Homo sapiens: one gene and its partners. The protein of the gene in region 2 purifies or fractionates together with the protein of the main gene of each other region. This does not show direct contact. Each region holds a gene or a part of one and is shown on either strand. Other genes may lie near its edges.

The links. Proteins that work in one complex are often made in the same cells at the same time.
Region 1: the proteins of HM13 (region 2) and ATP2B3 fractionate together in Homo sapiens (co-fractionation; one large-scale study listed by BioGRID). This does not show direct contact.
Region 3: the proteins of HM13 (region 2) and ADGRG1 purify together in Homo sapiens (affinity purification with mass spectrometry; one large-scale study listed by BioGRID and IntAct). This does not show direct contact.
Region 4: the proteins of HM13 (region 2) and AGPAT5 purify together in Homo sapiens (affinity purification with mass spectrometry; one large-scale study listed by BioGRID and IntAct). This does not show direct contact.

The regions. Positions count from the first base shown.
Region 1 is NC_000023.11:153,555,642-153,560,097, forward strand, and holds part of ATP2B3 (plasma membrane calcium-transporting ATPase 3), read left to right. Parts: intron 1-407; coding exon 408-587; intron 588-689; coding exon 690-777; intron 778-1,275; coding exon 1,276-1,382; intron 1,383-2,470; coding exon 2,471-2,662; intron 2,663-4,087; coding exon 4,088-4,301; intron 4,302-4,456. UniProt on the Homo sapiens protein: ATP-driven Ca(2+) ion pump involved in the maintenance of basal intracellular Ca(2+) levels at the presynaptic terminals. Uses ATP as an energy source to transport cytosolic Ca(2+) ions across the plasma membrane to the extracellular compartment.
Region 2 is NC_000020.11:31,520,069-31,525,480, forward strand, and holds part of HM13 (signal peptide peptidase), read left to right. Parts: intron 1-5,412. UniProt on the Homo sapiens protein: Catalyzes intramembrane proteolysis of signal peptides that have been removed from precursors of secretory and membrane proteins, resulting in the release of the fragment from the ER membrane into the cytoplasm.
Region 3 is NC_000016.10:57,656,130-57,660,585, reverse strand, and holds part of ADGRG1 (adhesion G-protein coupled receptor G1 isoform b precursor), read right to left. Parts: intron 4,361-4,456; coding exon 4,315-4,360; intron 4,073-4,314; coding exon 3,969-4,072; intron 3,214-3,968; coding exon 3,095-3,213; intron 1,192-3,094; coding exon of another isoform or gene 1,174-1,191; coding exon 905-1,173; intron 1-904. UniProt on the Homo sapiens protein: Adhesion G-protein coupled receptor (aGPCR) for steroid hormone 17alpha-hydroxypregnenolone (17-OH), which is involved in cell adhesion and cell-cell interactions.
Region 4 is NC_000008.11:6,746,642-6,751,097, reverse strand, and holds part of AGPAT5 (1-acyl-sn-glycerol-3-phosphate acyltransferase epsilon), read right to left. Parts: intron 3,429-4,456; coding exon 3,270-3,428; intron 1-3,269. UniProt on the Homo sapiens protein: Converts 1-acyl-sn-glycerol-3-phosphate (lysophosphatidic acid or LPA) into 1,2-diacyl-sn-glycerol-3-phosphate (phosphatidic acid or PA) by incorporating an acyl moiety at the sn-2 position of the glycerol backbone.

The DNA.
Region 1 (4,456 bases), on a different chromosome or scaffold from region 2:
TTGCAGGCTGTTCGCTTTCCACTCAGCACTGGGGAACCTCTTTCTCTTTCTCCAGAATCTAATGTGATGCAGGTGGTCCCCAACTTTTAACAATTTTGTAACTTGGTGCAAAGGTGATGCACATTCAGCAGAAACTTTACTTCGAGTCCCATGCTTTTCCCTTTCAGTGCAGGATTCAATGAGTTACATGAGATAATCAGCACTGTATTCCACAATAGGCTTTGTGTTCAATGCTTTTGCCCAACTGTAGGCTAACACAAGTGTTCTGAGCACGTGAATCGGATGGCTTTACTCTCACCTCTGCTGGACCTTGGGCCACCTGCAGATCTGATGGAGGAAGGGGTACTGCCTCAACCCAAAATACGTCTTGCCTCGATGGCCCCGCCCACCTCTCTTGTCTCTTCTAGGTCCCTGAAGCTATCCGAAAATGCCAGCGTGCTGGCATCACAGTCCGCATGGTGACTGGGGACAACATCAACACGGCCCGGGCCATCGCAGCCAAATGCGGCATCATCCAGCCCGGGGAGGACTTCCTGTGCCTAGAAGGGAAGGAGTTCAACCGGCGGATCCGCAATGAGAAAGGCGAGGTAGCACCCGGCTGTCTGCCACCCCAGACCCCCCTTCTCCTCACCCCAGCCCCCTGCGTGCCCGCCTTAGCTCTGCAGCGTCCTTGTGCTTCCCCTCCCCAGATAGAACAGGAGCGGCTGGACAAGGTGTGGCCCAAGCTGAGGGTGCTGGCCCGGTCGTCTCCCACCGACAAGCACACACTGGTCAAAGGTAGCCGAGCCCCCACACCCCTTTCCTGGGGTGGCCAGCCCGAGGTTGTCTGCTTCCTGACACCAAAAGCCAGGTTCCCAAACAGGTCCCCAGGGCCTGCCTAGGAAGCTGGGTCCATTTGTCCCATTAGCCCAGAGCAGCAGGGCAGGGGCCCATGAGGGAACCAGGGTTCGGGGAGGGCTAGTGACTCACTCCAAGTCACACAGTGAGTCTCTAGAAGCAGTGGGTCTAGAGCCAGGGACCCAGGATTGTGTCCCCAGGCCCTAACCAGATCCCTATCCTCCCACCCTGGCCCTGTCACTCAGTGAGATTTGCTTACTTATTTGGGGATAGGAGATGATCCAGGTGACGGGGAGCACAGATAATTGGGACAGTCAGGACGGGGTAATCCCAAAGGGTTTTCACAGCCAACCTACCCCCATAGCTCCCTGGGCAGGGCTACACAGGGTTGTGGTGACAGATGGCCCCAGCCCTGCCCTGCCCTGATCTGTCTTCCAGGGATTATCGACAGCACCACTGGTGAGCAGCGGCAGGTGGTGGCTGTGACAGGGGATGGCACCAACGATGGGCCGGCCCTCAAGAAGGCGGACGTGGGCTTCGCCATGGTAAGCCACCTGGTGCCCGCCCAGCTCACCACGGCAGATGGGGCCTGCATCTGTCCCATGGACATTAGCTTTGTACCAGGAAGTGGGAGCCAGTGTCGGGGCAGGTTACAGAGTGCCTGAAGGTTCTTTCTTTCACATCCTGGCCACTTGGGCCTGCGTGGGCTCTGCCAGTCGGGGGACATGTGGTTAAAGGCATCTGCTGTGATGCCCAAGGTGACAGTGGGCCCCAGACATACTGTGGAGAGGAAGGGGAATGGGGGGTGGGGGCTCATCACTGATGGCATTGCCCACCCCCGTCCTCTCTAAATGGACTCTCAGCCCCAGATGAGGTGAGCAGAGTCCCCAGATGTGCTCTTCCTCTGCACTTCCTTCCTGTTGCTCACCCACTGAGCAGGGTAGCCCTGCAGACGCCACCCACATGGCTGGTTGCGGCCCCTCAGTGGCCCCACAGCCACTGAACGCAGCAACCTGGTGAGCCCCTCTCCCTGCCCTACCGAAAAGGAGTGTCACCCAGGGAACCCAGCCCAGTCCTTCCCAGCACCCGTAGCCCAGAAGGGAGCTCCAGCCCAAGCTTCGAGAGGTGGCAGCTCTCACGGGGCCAGGCTTGGGGCAGAGGAGAGGACTGCGCAGCTTGGCACAGCTGCAGCTGCGCCTCCATGGGACAGGGACTCCTCTGCAAGGAGCCGCCCCGCCCAGGGTGTCCCCATGCAGGACTTCCCAGGGCTCCTTAGCCAGCAAGCCTCTCTGGAGTGCTAAGAACAGACCACGCTGCTTGGTGGCCACGTGGTGGCAGCTGGGCTTTATGTGTAAAGCTGTGTTGATGCCATGTCATCAGCACCCTCTGTGTTTATGAGCAAAGCCCCCCCCCCCACCGTGACATGTGACAACTTACTGTTTGTAGTACAAGAATGTGTTGCATTAAAAAAAAGCAACAAAAAACAGTGCTGTTCTTGGCTTTGGGGGGCGGGGTGGGATGTTATTCAGAAGGGGAGAGCAGGGAGCCAGCCCAGGCGGGCCAGGTGATCAAGGGGGGCTGGGGAAGGGGCCCCCACAAACACTCTGTGTGAGTGTGTGTGTCACCCCCCCAGGGCATCGCAGGGACCGACGTGGCCAAGGAGGCCTCCGACATCATCCTGACCGATGACAACTTCACCAGCATCGTCAAGGCAGTCATGTGGGGCCGTAACGTCTATGACAGCATCTCCAAGTTCCTGCAGTTTCAACTGACGGTCAATGTGGTGGCTGTGATCGTGGCCTTCACAGGTGCCTGCATTACTCAGGTGGGTACTGGGGGCTGCCATGCCCCAGCTAGGACACCTGGGCTCAGGCCTGAGGGCCAGATTGTGAGAGTGAGGGTTTTGTTTTCTTTGCTGCAGATTATTTTAATTGAGATCAAATTCATATGCCAAAAATTCACCATTTTCAAGTACATAATTCAGCACTCGAATTTGTAGGACATTCACCACGTTGTGCAACCATTGGCTCTATCTAGTTCCAGAAGATTGTCATCATCTTAAAAAGAAACCCTGTGCTCTTGAGCAGTCATTTCCCCATTTCTCCCCCAAACATCCCAGCCCCCGGCAACCACTCACAGGCTTCCTGGGTCTATGGATTTGCCTGTTCCGGACATTTCATTCCTATGGGATCAAATAATATGTGGCCTCTTGTGTCTGGCATCTCGCTTAGCACCGTGTTTTCAGGCTCACACACACCGTAGCATAGGGCAGGACTTTCTGCCTTTTCATGGCCTCATAACACTCCACGGCACAGACTGCCACATTATGTATGTCTGCCCTGATGGACACATGGCTCGTTCCCACTTTTTGGCTCTTGTGAATGGTGCTGCCAGGAGCATCTGTGTATGAGTTTCTGCGTGGGCTATGCGTCCCATGGGAACCCTTTCTCAACAGTCCCATTTTCCCCATTGGTGAGTGTCCAGATTTTCTTCACCCCGCCTTAGAAAGGGGGTGTTTAAATTGCCTGCTGATCAACTTGGTCTTTTCAAAACAATTTTTTAAATTGAGATAAAAAATCACATAACAAACTTCAACAGAACCATTTTAACCTTTTGAAAGTACATAACTCCGAGGTTTATATCCCTCCACTGTCTATTCCCAGAACATTCTCATCACCCCAAAAGGACACCCAGACCCCGTGAGCAGTCACTCTCTACTCCCCAAACCCCAGCCCCTGGCACCCACTCATCTGCTTTCTCTCTCTATGGATTTGTCAGTTCTGGAAGTTTCCTATGAATGGAATCAGACAGTACGTGGCCTTGTGTGTCTGGCTTCTGTGAGGCTGATTTTTAACGAACAACTCAGAGGAGCTGAGAAGGAAGGTCCAGTTCAGAGTTTCTGCCTCCTCCTGCCCCTGAGGTGCAGGAGACAAGGAGAGCAGCCCTCACTCTGTTGCCCCAAATGGCAGACCCCATCGTCGGGCTGTTTTGTGGTCTGGGGTTTTTCACCTCCTGCGAGGGATTTGGAGCACACCTGCTGCCAGGTGAGAGAAGGGAGGCGGGCACGTGACAGCCCAAAGAAAACGCCCCACTAGCGTAAAGGCGATGTAGGGATGGAGATGTCTGTTTTCATGGGCATGAAATCCTGGTGATGTGGACCCCATGAGGAGCCCCCAGGAGCTACTGGGTTTCCACCCCCAACCTTCCCGGGCAGGCGGCCCATGGAAAGGTGACTGCCTCCTCTCCATAGGACTCTCCTCTCAAAGCCGTGCAGATGTTGTGGGTGAACTTGATCATGGACACATTTGCCTCTCTGGCCCTGGCGACGGAGCCACCCACAGAGTCGCTGCTGCTGCGGAAGCCGTACGGCCGCGACAAGCCCCTCATCTCCCGCACCATGATGAAGAACATTCTGGGCCACGCCGTGTACCAGCTCGCCATCATCTTCACCCTGCTGTTTGTCGGTAGGCTGGCCAGGGGCACCCGGGAGGACTTCAGGACACTGTTGCCACCACCTCGGGCTCAGATTCTGTCTGGTGTGTCTCCACCTGTGTCTCCGCACCCAGTACGGGGTGGGACGCTGCACTTCCTGACTGGACAGCACACAGGGGAAGGAGCA
Region 2 (5,412 bases):
CTGGTCTCAAACTCCTGACCTCAGGTGATCTGCCCGCCTTGGCCTCCTAAAGTGCTGGGATTACAGGCGTGAGCCACTGTTCCCAGCCCACACTTTTTATTTAGATAGATTTTACCATATGATCCACTATAGAGGTTGTATCAGTTTACTTTCCCACCAGCAATGACCTCAATTCTTGTTTAATGGCTGTGGAGTAGTCTGTTCTCCAGAGGTTTTGTTTTTTTGTTGTTGTTTTTGTTTGTTTGTTTGTTCATTTGTTAGAGTCTCACTCTTTGGCCAGGCTGGAGTGCAGTGGTGTGATCTTGGCTCACTGCAACCTCCGCCTGCCAGGTACAAACAATTCTCATGCCTCAGCCTCCCAAGTAGCTGGAATTACAGGCGCGTGCCACTACGCCTGGCTAATTTTTATATTTTTAGTAGTGACAGGGTTTCACCATGTTGGCCAGGCTGGTCTCGAACTCTTGACCTCAAGTGATCCGCCCACCTCGGCCTCCCATAGTGCTGGGATTACAGGTGTGAGCCACTGTGCCTGGCTTCTCCAGAGGTTTTTAAGCAGATACGTGATACAATCAGGTGTAGGCTTTAGAAAGAGCTCATGGCAGGGTGGGTGATAGGCAGGAGGGAGAAGTGTAATGTTGGTGCAGGGGTTGTGAAGACAGCAATGCAGCAATGAGGGCCAAAGGATTGGGGTGGGAAGTTAGGAAAGGTAACCTTGGAGAGCTGAGTGACTGGATGTTGTGGTAAAGAATGGAGACTCTGGAGTCTCCAGCTGGGTCAACAGTAACAGAATGGCCCATGAATTTCAGATCATTTCCAGGGCATGGCGTAGAAGCAGTGCTCCGAGAGCTTGAACCGTGCCAATGGCTTGAAGCAGGCATCTGTCCTCTCTTACAGCTTTTGTTTCCGCTCTGATAACAACATCCAGAATGTCACTGGAAGCTACATTTACTTCTGCTGTTTGTGTCAGGTTTTTCCCCCACTTTCTAATTGTGTTTTATGTTGCAGGATCTATTGTATTTACATACACAAATCTGGTTAAAAAATCGCAATTGGATTGGTAAAGAATCCTAGCAACTTTTTAGTATTTTTGTAACTACAAAGATTAGCTGTTCAGTTACCTTCAGGATTCTGTTCCTCAGAAAGGTTGCAGGCTTCCCAAGTATCTTCCTGTTAAAACTTTCCAACCGAAATTTCCAGATAGGAAAGATAGAAATCTTCTAGGAAACAGCTCCCAAGAGTTTGGGGTCTGGAACTGGACTGCCTCAGTTTCAGTCCTGGCTCTGCCACTCACCAGCTGTGTGACACTAAGCAAGTTACTTCACCTCTCTAGACCTCCGCTTCCTCATCTGTAAAAGAGCTATTAAAAGTACCTGCTGGCCAGGCGTGATGGCTCACGCCTGTAATCCCAGCACTTCGGGAGGCCAAGGCAGGCAGATCACAAGGTCAGGATCTTGTGACAGACCATCCTGACTAACATGGTGAAACCCTGTCTCTACTAAAAATACAAAAAATTAGCTGGGCGTGGTGGTACATGCCTGTAGTCCCAGCTACTCGGGAGGCTGAGACATGAGAATTGCTTGAACCCAAGAGGCGGAGGTTGCAGTGAGCCAAGATTGCACCACTGCATTCCAGCCTGGGCAACAGAGCGAGACTCCATCTCAAAAAAAAAAAAAAAAAGTACCTGCTTTGTGGGGTTTTTGTGAGGATGAAAACATGTAAAGTACCTAGAACAGTGCAGTAATGTTATTGTTATTACTATTATCGTCAGATTTCAGGTCTCCCATTCTTTTTTTTTTTTTTTTTTTAATGGAGGCAGAGTATCTCCATGTTGCCCATGCTGGTCTCAAACTCCTGGGCTCAACCGATCTGCCCACCTTGACCTCCCAAAGTGCTGGGATTACAGTCCAGTCTCCCATTCTGACTCAGCATTGCAGCATGGGATATTTATAAGTCACCCGCAAAGGAGACCAGAGTCCTCTGTGTAATGGAGAGGATCTGTCCAACCTTGGTTTGTCACTGAATAAGATTAGGCCTCTTCCCACCCAGGGTGCTGAGCTGAATTGAAAGGAATATGTGGAAATGAGCCATAATGCTGGTTTGTAGGTGAAGCCACAGAGTCCTGCGTGTCCTTTGACAGCCCTGAGCCTCTGCATGTGCATATCTTTCTGCCTGATAAGCACTTCCTTTCCTTGTACACAAAGCACACTCCTCAAGCCGGGCATGGTGGCTCACACCTGTAATCCCAGCACTTTGGGAGGCCAAGGCAGGCAGATCATCTGAGGTCAGGAGTTTGAGACCAGCCTGGCCAACATGGTGAAACCCCATCTCTACTAAAAATACAAAATTAGCTGGGTGTGGTGGCAGGTGCCTATAATCCCAGCTACTCAGGAGGCCGAGGCAGAGAATCACTTGATTTGTAGTGAGCTGAGATTGTGCCATTGCACTCCAGCCTGTGCAAAAAGAGCAAAACTCCACTAAAAAAAAACAAAAAAAAAAAACTGACAAGCTGACTCCTAAACCCAGTCAGCATTTGTCTGGCTCCAGACTACCAGACACTGTGCTTGACCATCAAGGCCTTGCTTAAGTGGTACCTGCTCTTGCCACCTCTGACTCCCTTACTTCTCTGCAGAAATAGTGTCTTGTTGGCTGTGTCGTGATTCCGTTTTGCATAATAATGATACAAATGGTGTATACGGTTTAAATGATGACTCGAGATACAATGCTGAGTACTTCCAAAGCAGAAATCAGAATCCTCACAACTTGTTTTACAGCTGAGGAAATTGAGGCTTAGAGAAAAAAAAAATCACTTTCCCAAGGTCCCACAGCTGGGAAGTAGAGCTGGGAGTCCAAATGGACTTCCTGATCTCAGAGTCCCTTCATAACTGCTGATGTTCATACTGTGTGTCACAGTGATATACATGTCTATTGCATCATGTGTCACACTACATTATAATAGCCTGTTTGGGGTTTTTTTTGGGAGGGGGGCTTTTTTTTTTTTATGAGACAGAGTCTCGCTCTGTTGCCGAGGCTGGAGTTCAGTGGCACGATCCCCACTCACTACGGCCTCCACCTCCCGGGTTCAAGCAATTCTCCTGCCTCAACCTCCTGAGTAGCTGGGACCATAGGCGCACAATATCACACCCGGCTAATTTTTGTATTTTTAGTAGAGACGGGGTTTCACCATGTTGGCCAGGCTGGTCTTTTTTTTTTTTTGAGACAGAGTCTCGCTGTCCACCCAGGCTGGAGTTCAGTGGCTCAGTCTCGGCTCACTGCAACCTCCACCTCCCAGGTTCAAGCTATTCTCCTCCCTCAGCCTCCCAAGTAGCTGGGATTACAGATGCACACCAGCACGCCCAGCTAATTTTTGTATTTTTAGTAGAGACAAGGTTTCACCATGTTGGCCAGGCTGATCTCGAAATCCTGACCTCAGGTGATCCGCCCGCCTCCATCTCCCAAAGTGCTGGGATTACAGGCATGAGCCACCACGCCCAGCCAGTTTTGCTGTGCATTCCATAAAATAGAATACGTGTTCCCTGTAATATGTATCATGTCACAGTATTAACCTACCTGCCTGTGAGTGTTTCAAGATCAGGAACTCATTTTTGTACCCATACTACTGCTACACAGGAAATGTATTGAATGTGTGGAGATGCTCAGAGGGGATGAGGAACTTGCCCAAGTCCCACAGCACACTGCTGGCAAAAGCAGAAGCCAAGGGTTGGGAGAGAATAGGGAAGGAAGGAAACTGGGCCTCTCATGTGGGTATTGTTCACCCACCCCACTCCCACCTCCTAGCAAAGCTGTCCAAGTGACTCACATGGAGCTGCCTCCAGTGGCTCCAGAGGGGAGGGTCTCCCTTCCAGCCCAGAGCCTGGGCTGCCTCAGCCATGCATAGGCAAGGGTGTGGTTAGGGGCCTCCTCACTCACCTCTCCCTGATAGTCACAACCCCCAATACAGGCACAGTACTTTAGTTTGCCAGGCTGTTTCGCATCCCATATCTTATTTGCTTTAAGACTCCTATGGGGCTGGGTGTGGTGGTTCACGCCTATAATCTCAGCATTTTGGGAGGCCAAGGCAGGAGGATCACTTGATGCCAGGAGTTCAAGGCTGCAGTGAGCTATGATCCTGCCACTGCACTCCAGCTTGGGCAACAGAGAGAGACCCTGTCACTTTTCTTTAAAAAAAAAAGAAGGCTCTTGGACCTTTTTTGAAGTGAGGCTAGAGATTGTCCTCCTGTTTGACAGAGAAGTAAACCCAGTCACTCAGCAAGCCGTTAACAGAGCAAGGAATACCTTGGATACACTTTATGTGTAGCATTTTACTTATTTATGAACTATATCTGTAGGGAGAATTCCCACAGATGGAATTGCTTGGTCAAAGGGTATGTGCATTTGTAATTTTTTGTGTATTGCCTAGTTGCTTTCTACAGGAAGACAGATTGACTCCCATAGGCAGTGTGGGAGACTACATCTTTCCCCGTAGCCCCACCGACTCAGTATGTTACCCAGTGTGTGGATTCTTACCTTTCCGATAGACAAAAAACAGAATCTCAGTGTGCTTTAGTTTGAGCTCTTATTAAGAGTGAGAATAAAGACTTTTTTTATTATTATTAAGAGCCATTTGTAGTTCTTGTTGTGTGGCTTTTTTTTTTTTTTTTTTTTTTAGATGGAGTCTCGCTCTGTCGCCCAGGCTGGAATGCAGTGGCACAATCTTGGCTCACTGCACGCTCCGCCTCCCGGGTTCATGCCATTCTGCTGCCTCAGCCTCCCGAGTAGCTGGGACTACAGGCGCCCGCCACCACATCTGGCTAATTTTTTCTATTTTTAGTAGAGATGGGGTTTCACCACGTTAGCCAGGATGGTCTTGATCTCCTGACCTCACGATCCGCCTGCCTCGGCCTCCCAAAGTGCTGGGATTACAAGCGTGAGCCATTGTGCCCGGCCTCTGTGGCTCCTCTTTTTGTATCTTTGGGCATGTGGAAATTTCAGTCTAATGCATCCTGCCAAATTACCCTCCCGAAAAGGCTGGACAGGTTTATACTTTAGGCCAGTGCTGTCTATGTATTTCCTTTAGCCAGGCACAGTGGTGCATGCCTGTAATCCCAGCTACTTGGGAGGCTGAGGCAAGAGGATTACTTAAACCCAGGATTTCGAATCTAGCCCACACCTCCCTCTCCTAGTAGTCATTTTGTGGGCTTACTGCCCTCTGCCCCATCTCCTTCCCTCTTTGCAACCTTCCACCTGGGACACTAGGGCCTCTCTGAGCCAGTCTTACCTTCTCCAGACACCCTCTCTCTTAGCAGGTTTTTTATTGTTGGTTTTTGTCAGCCAAAATATTTGTGAGTCTCCATAACTGAATGTGATCCCTTCTTCTAGGGATGCTGGTGCTTTACTTGCAAGATGGATATGGTG
Region 3 (4,456 bases), on a different chromosome or scaffold from region 2:
GGTTTCCTATAAGGGGATGCCATCTCCTCCAACCTTAGCCCTGCCCTTCGTCACCCTGGGGGCCCCTGGGAGAAAGGCCTGTGGGTCTCTGCTGCAGGGCTGGATGTCACAGGGGAGATGGGAGGGGCAGACAGTTTAGGAGGGACGGCAAGAGTTCTGCCATCAGGGGACGTCTGCACTGGGCCTTGACCTCGCCCGTTCGGTGGAGATTAGAAGCTCCCTAGAGGGGGCTGCCCACCTCCAAACACAAAGTCCTGACACAGAGACACCTCCAAAGGAATTTCATGCAAATGGGGGAATGGACAAAGAAGGGGCCCAATGACAAACCCGCGAAGAGCAGCAAGCTGGAGTCAGGGGCATGCGGAGGTTGAGGGGTCTGTGCAATGTCCAAACAGACTTGTGGCATCATGAGCCCCTGGGCTGTAGGTCTGACATAAGAGGGCTGGCCACAGGTGAATTGAACAGTCATTGGCCAAGAACAAAATGCCAAGCCACAGGGAATCTGTTACCCAAGGTCCAGGGGGATCCTGAGGCAGGGCCACTGCCAGCCCGAGTGAATTAAATGACTGGAGCGGGACTGGATTTCAGCCCCTCTGATCTCTGAACTGGGTGCCTTTGAGCAGTGCACAACCTGCACATTCACACACGGTGGCCCTGCTCGTAAATCCCCTTTGCAATGGAGTGAGTGATGTGGAGAATTTGGAAGTGTTTCTTGGGGACAGGGCTCACTGCTTCTTCCTAAAGGGGACCTTGATTCAGCCAAGGTGAAGGACACCTGAGGATGAGTGAAGGAGGCCAGGAGGGAAGTCAGAGAGATAGGTGGAGAGGCAGAACCAGGTGCCTGGGTTTTGCCAGAGCCAAGTGGGAGAGGCAGGTCTGAGGCACCCCCCGCCCAACCACTTACCCCAGCCCATGGCGCTCAGCTTGAGTAGGTAGCCAGGGACATAGGTGCCAAAGACCTCCACCACGAGTCGGTAGAGGTTGTACCCCTCGAGGCCCATCCAGGAAAGGCAGGTGAGCAGGGAGAAGTGCAGGAAGATGGCACTGGCTCGGCAGCCAGCCTCAGAGCCTGTCAGGGCCACCGGCTCGCTGAGCAGGAAGCTCGTGTCCAGCAGGAAGACGGCCAGCAGCAGGTTCATGTGCACCTTGATGGTGTAGTCCCGAGGTTTCCTCCTGCACGGCAGGGGCACCCTGGTGGGCCAGTGTGGGAAGGTAGAGAGGGGAGTGTGCCCACATCTCCTCCAGGAAGCCTTCCCAGACTGCCCCCCACCCCGACACACACATGCAGTCATACATGGCCCCTATCCTATTCCTGTGGCTGCAGCCAAACTGTTCCCCACATCCCCCTGTGCACCTACTGTGTGCCCAGCACCCACAGACTCAGGCACCACGTGCACGTTTAACAGAAGCCTCAGCCAGGCAGAGCGAGGAAGACAACCACAGTAATAAACCAGATACTCTCAAAGTCAGAGCGGAAACACTTTGGCATTTTCACCATGTTGGAGAATCCATGCCATCCACATTCTGTGTCTTCCCGTCTGTCTGCACAACTGTGCACCTGTGAGTCTGAGTGTGGGCTGCCCGCATCGGTCTGTCTGAGGTTTGCAAGTCAATGTGTGCACACCCCACCCCACCCCCACTCCAGGATTCTACATGGCCCTAGAGGGTGCAGCAGAACATGCAGGCCCCAGTGTCACCATCCTGGAGTCCCACCCTGCCCTGCCCCTAACTCATGGCACCATCTTCAGCTGGTCCCCTCCCCTTGAGACTCTCAGTTTGCCTATCTGTGAAGTGGGAGGATGGTACCCTCATAGGGTTGGGGTGAGAGTTACACTGACACAAAGCATCTGACACAGATAAGGTGCTCAGTTCCTAAGGGTTCCTGTGCTGTGTCCTTGGGCATGTTTGTGAGCAACTGGGTGTTGAGGACTTCTGCCTCCACCCCCAGCCTTCCGCCGAGCCCATCTCATCACCCAGCTGTCCTTCCTCATCACCATCACCTACTTAGCTCCCCAGGTACACAGCTGTGCACACACAGGACAGTCATATAGGCACACACGTGCTTGTGCACACGCATAAATACAGCTTCACTTTCCTCTCCTTCCTCGTGGCTGGGGACAGTGAGAACCGAGGGTGCCTCTCCTCTACCCAAATGGGTTCAGCGCTGAGGGCAAGTGGACCCCAATTTAGGCCAAGCCAAGCACTGACAATCTGACCTCTGCCACTTCCTTGCTGTGTGACCTCAAGCAAGTCACTTACCCTCTCTGAGTGTTCCTTCATAGGGCTGTTGTGAGGATGAATTGAGTTCACACATGTAAAACACTTAGAACAGTGCATGGCACACGGGAAGTTTGACACACGTTAAGTATGATCATTACCGCTGTGATATTATTGTGTCCACCCAGTGCTCTCACAAATCTGCTTATTCAAAGGCAGAAATGAAAAATCTTTCCTTTTTTAAGTTTTTTATTTTGCTTTCCTGTCTTACTCTAGGAAAGAAACAGATTCTTAGGTGGACTCTCTCAATTTTAAATGTTGACAATTAGCCTGGCACAGTGACTCATGCCTGTAATCCCAGCGCTTCGGGGGGCTGAGGTGGGTGGATCACTTGAGGTCAGGAGTTCGAGACCAGCCTGAGCAACATGGTGAAACCCCGTCTCTACTAAAAATATACAGATTAGCCAGGTGTGGTGGCAGGCGCCAGTAGTCCCAACTACTCAGGAGGCTGAGGCACAAGAATCACTTGAACCCGGGAGGCAGAGGTTGCAGTGAGCCGAGATCATGCTACTACACTCCAGCCTGGGCGACAGAGGCAAGGCTCTGTCTCAAAAAAATAATAATAATAAAATAAAAATAAAAATAAATAAATACAATGTCGACAGCTAAAATTTGTAAATACTATGTTATCCAAACACCACTGATCTGAGGAGGAGACGTGGCCCCCAAGGGTCAGCTTACCCCAAACAGCTCCCCTAACCACACACACAGTTCCAGGTCATGCGGGCGGGCCATGACCGGAGATGTGTGCGGCGCCCTGGTGGAGGTGTGTGCAATGGAGGGTCCCCTCCCCTGTCCCACCCCTTTCAGGCCTCACCTGGAGCAGAGGTAGGCGGCAATGGTGACAAGGCAGGCCAGGGCAGAGACGACACAGCCCACGTAGGAGAGGAGGCTCAGGTAGTGCTTGTGCACGGCGTCCACCTCCACCGAGGAGACCTGGCCCCAGGAGACAGGAGAGAGCTGGCCTCTGTGTCCCCCACACAACCTGGAGGCTTGCCCTGCGTGAGGGGCTAACCTGGGGTCCCTGGTGGGCCTCGGAAGCCTAAGAACCCCCTCTCCCAACTGAGCAGAATGTGGTCCCATAAGTGCATTTTTCTGGAGTGGGGGCATCTTTAGATTTGACCACATTCTCAAGCGGCTTCCTGACCCACAGAGGCCAAGAACCCTTCATGAGAGAACCCCTATTCTGTCCTGGCATTGATTATTCTTCTATAACATTTAACATGGGAATAGGTTTCCTGTGAGGGAATGAGATTCCCACACCCAGGGGTGTTCAAGCCCCAGGTGGATACCCACAGGCAGAATCCTACAGTCCTGGGAGCATGAATTCTGAGGTCTTGGGGGCACTGGAGGCCACCTCAGGGGCCTCATTAGAAACACTCTTGGCCCCATCACTGCCAAATCAGAACCCTAGGTGAGGGCCAGGAATCTGCATTTTCGTACACACCAAAATTTGGGAATAAAGAGCAGGGGCTCTACAAACCAGCTCTTTCACTGACTAGCTGTGTGGCCACGGGTAAATTGCTTAACCTCTCTGAGCCTCCATTTCCTCATCTATAAAATGGGACAACAATAGAAGCTACCTTGGAGAGCTGTTATGAGGAATAAATGACTGAATATATGAAAAGTGCTTGCACAGAACAAGCACACGGCCTGGGGTGTGGCTGCGAGGTGGGAGCAGGGACCCTCACCATCAGCACTGCAAAGTAGGTCAAGTGGTTGCAGAAGCAGGATGTTTGGGTTTCTCTCCTGACGGTCTCACACCCAGCACTGCTCCAATGCCCCGGGCTGCTCACTGAGGAGGGGACAGCACGGGGCTCCAATCAAGTCCAGTCCTCCAGGACCCCACTGTGTCCACCCCCAAAAGCACGACTGTGTCATTCTTCCACCCGGCCTACTCATAGCCTGCCATCGCTCTCTCTTCAAAGTCCTCCTTTCTCCAGGAAGCCCTCGGTGATTAACCCCACCTCCCCCACCCCCCAGGACTCTATTTCTCTTCCAGATACTTGTCCAGCCCAGAGACCCCTGCATACTCACATGTGGGGTCTTCAACCCAGAACACACATTGCAGAGTCACATTCTTCTGTAGGGACAAGAAAGGAGAGTGGTTTCTGTGACAGCCCCCCACCCCTCCAACTTTACAGGCCAGGCAGAGGAAGTCTAGAACACAGTCAAGCCA
Region 4 (4,456 bases), on a different chromosome or scaffold from region 2:
CATCAATTCATATAAACAATTGAAAGCAGGGCTGAGCCAGTGACAGAAAACAAAAAAAAACAATGAAAGCAGAGTTTTTTCAAGCTACAGGTTAAAAGCAACACACTAGAAGGAAAAACGTGTTATTATTATATCTTATGTGCACACGTATACATGTTGAATAATGTCTCAGAAAGCGGGAATGCTAAATCTAAAATGTGAATGCATTTGTACATCTGAGAGACATTTCCAAAGCAACTTCTACAAAGGTTTGTACTACATTGCATTCCTAACAGCAAAGTATAAAAATGCCTGATAATACTTGAATCTCACCCACTGAGCCTATGATCAAACCTTGGGATGTTTGCCAATCTAATGGATTAAAAAAAAAAAAGGTATCCCCTGTAGTTTTCATTTGCACTTACCTTATCATGAATGAGGTTAAATGTGAAATGTCTATTGTTGTTCTTTACCCATTTTTCTTTCTAGTTATCAGTCATCTTCTTATCAATTTGTAAGTGCACTTTACGCAAGAAGGAAATGACCCCTTTTCTATGATCTAGGTTGTAAATAATTTCCCAGTTTGTCTTTCAGTCTTGATTTTACTCTGGTGTATTTTTCCTTTAATTCAGAAATACTTTATCCTTGACTGAAGTGATAAGATTTTATTTTCTTTATGGTATCTGGGTAAGTCAGAAAGGTCAATCTTTCAAAAGGAGACAATTTGTAATGAATACACATAGGCAGTGACCACCCCAAAGCCACAGTCAGCTCACATGTAGCAGAGGATAAGCAGGGCAGTGGGAGGTTGGAACCCAGGCAATGCAACTCACAGAAGGTTTTGGCTTCCTCAAGGCACTTATGATGCGGCTGGGAAGAGAGAAAGGCAGAGCCCTGTGCTAAGTGCCAGCACTGTAACACACGCCATCAGTGCCACAGCAGTACTGCAAGAGCAGGGGCAGGAGAAGGCACAGTGCTATGCTGGGAAAGGTGCCGCCTGTCACTGTGGGAGAACAGTAGCCTTGGATGAGGGCAACAAAAGAGAGGGTGGTTTCCTGTGGAAAGCAGGATTGGCCACACAAAGCCTTCAACTACTGAATATGCATGGGGTGCAGGAGGACTCAGTCAGCCAGCTTCACCACGGCCGAGGCTTCACGGCACAGCACAGGAGGAAGCGAAGGCAAGGCAGAGATCACGGCTGGAACGCATTCCTCCGATGGCAGGCAACAGAGGCTGGCCTTACCCATGAGCTCTGCTGAACCAAGGGGTTCTTAGACAGGAGGGGACATGATAAAAGTAGCAGCATTTAAACAAGGTTATTATGGGGAGTCTATCTGTTTTTCATTGGTTATAAACACTTGTTTAATCTTAAACTATGTTTAATAAACCAACGACAATCTTGATGAACTGTCTGTTTTCAAATGCAAAAATAGGTAAGTAACTCCTTCGATAGTTTAAAAGAGAAAAATATTAATATGCCACTTTTCTGTAAGAAGGGAGGGATGGTAGAATAAGAAGATATACTTAAATTTGCACATACAACGCACAACAAATTAAGAAAACTGGTTATCGCTAGGAAGGAGAAGGGAAGGCCAGGTAGCAGGGTGGAAAGCAAGGAAGACGTTTCACTGTGCATTTCGTACAGTTTTAATTTTTAAACTGATGCATTACATATTCTAAACATTTACATCTAAAATGAAAAACACCTTAGTTTTCTACTTTACAATTACTCTGTGTTATATACAATTATGAGAACAATCATCTTTCAGATATAAATATGTTACATTTTTTTTTCCTTCGACCATAACCAATTTTTATACTAGCTAGCCCCTGGGCCTCACTCCTCCAGCCTCCCTCCCTAACTTTCTGCAGTAGACAGCTGCTCTCTCTTTCAGTCAAAGAGCTTTTCTTTTAAAACCTGAGTGACCCTCATCTTATCATTATTTAACAGACTAATCATTTGACAACTATAATCTCACTGAACTTTGGAAAAATCCCTAACATCCAAAGATGACACACAGACAGTGTTAGATAATGTAACGGTGCACAGTACTACGTCTAGAAGGCCTACGTGTAAGGTTGGGCAGAATAATTTCTATCCTTGCTCACTTCTGAATGCTTTAATAATGTCTACTTTTATAAATGTTTTGTTGTAGTTAAAAATATTACTCTATAAAATTTCCAAGGCACATCAACTTCAGACGAATGCTTCAGGTGAGGGTTTCCATGTAAAACGTGCTGGAGGCTCATATTTTGAACATCTGCCCTCAGTAGATCCTACTGATACAAGCACACTGACATACATAGTGGCTCAACCCCAAACAGCTGATGAGGTAAAAACACAAAGCTCATTTGGGAGGCCGAGGTGCGTGGATCACCTGAGGTAAGGAGTTTGAGACCAGCCTGGCCAACAAGGTGAAATCGCATATCTACTAAAAATACAAATATTAGTCATGCATGGTGGCACACGCATGTAGTTCCAGCTACTCAGGAGGCTGAGGCAGGAGAATCGTGTGAACGTGGGAGGCGGAGGTTGCAGTGAGCCAAGATTGCGCCACTGCACTCCAGCCTGGGCGACAGAGCGAAACTCTTGTCTCAAAACAAAAAACGAAAAACAAAAAAACCCCATGAAGCCTAGTGTTCTCTCTCAACCCCAGCTCAAACAGATATTTTGAAAAGGAAACAGAAACTCCACACACTTCCCTGTTTGCCTATTTCCATGTTTACATTTCTCTAACAGCTAACACTATGTTTGGTTAGTTTAACTAAGTTATCCTGCTCACTTAAAATTCTATTTTTTTCTGGTTATATCTGACAATAGCTCAAAGGTTCTTAAAACCTAACATGTTTGGGGAAAAAAAAAGGTCACACTTAACTGCATTTCTTCTTGTCACAATGACACCCAAATTTAATAAATATTTTACGAAAAATACAGCAAAAGGGCAGCACTGACTAATAACGTGCACTCAGTACTGCCGGGCGTGCTCCTTCTTCACGTCTTCCTCCCTTTTACAGAGCTTTCCTTTTAAGTGTGAACTTTGAGTAGAAAGAGGCTGGATTAATGATAATTGGTGAGTCCACAGGACTCACACGACAGCCAAGAAATACCACACTTTGCAGGACTAATGAAATCTCCACTGTTACATCTTAATAACATCTTGAAAAATATACCGGGTAAATGTAATGAAGGAAAAAAGTACACTTAACCTACTTTGTAAAACTGAATTCTACATAAACATGTGCACTGTATATACCGTGTACAGGCATTTCAGGTGCGTGAACACACTTACCCGTCATGGTCGGTGACTCTCTTCGCTGCCCTCCATCGTCTTTCCCTTCATAAACCACCGTAACATCATAAATTGCATCTAAATAATTCTTCATGCAATCAAAAGCAACGTGAGTTGCCTTTATTCGTGGTGTTAGCACATGTTTTAATACTGCAAGGCCTAGAAGTCAATTCAGTGCCGTCATTAATTAGTTACAAAACACCTCCACAATATACTGTTTAACATCTAAATTATTTTTAAATTCCCTCAAACACACACAACAGAATCTATTAATTCCACAACCTCATATATTTAGGGCTCTAAGTTTAGAAAGCACTCTCACTTGCCTTTTTCTGTTTAAATCAATATTCATTTGCTATATATTGATCAAATATCTACATGTACAAGTCACCGTGTTGGAAGTTTATGGCCTAGCGGAAACGCTTCAATCTAGTAGACCCCGGCAAGGGTAAATATTAGTGCCCTCGCTTCTGGCCACTGAACAAAGGTGATAGCATCTTGCCCATGGTGACTCAAGATTTCCTAGAAATACAGTCACACAGCACATGGCCTCCTGTTTCTGGCTTCTTTCGCTCAGCATGGATCTGAGGTTCATCTGTGTGGCTGCAGGACTCAGTGCTTCATTCCTTTTTATGGCTGAATAGTTAGTATTCCACTGTGTGAACAGATCACATTTTGTTTACCTATTAATTGCTTCATGGACATTTGGGTTGCATCCATACTTTGGCTATTATGAATAATGCTGCTATGAACATTCATAGGAATTGCATATGAAGGCTGCAGGTGAACAAGCTTTTGTATGAACATACGATTTCAATCCTCTTGGGTATATCTGACATATTTTTAAAAGGTTCTTTAGCTGGGGGACTACTGCAATTATCCAGAACAAATCCCATTCATTAGGTTCCTACTAGGGTTAAGGATTTGTTCTTCTCTCCTTCCTATTACCTCCCTTTTCCTTGATTAAAATATTTACTGACAATTTAACAGAAAACAGTAGCTCTCAATAAGTGACATGAAAATAGACTATAAAAAACTAGTCTAGATTTTCTACTGGCCTCTCTGGAGGGAAAGTAGCTGAGTAAGGAAGAACAGCTATTACATGGTGGGACTGTCCCACACAAGAGGTTTTAAAATGCAGGGTGGTGTGGGAAAGACAAAGATTCCCACAAGCACGTATCTGACTT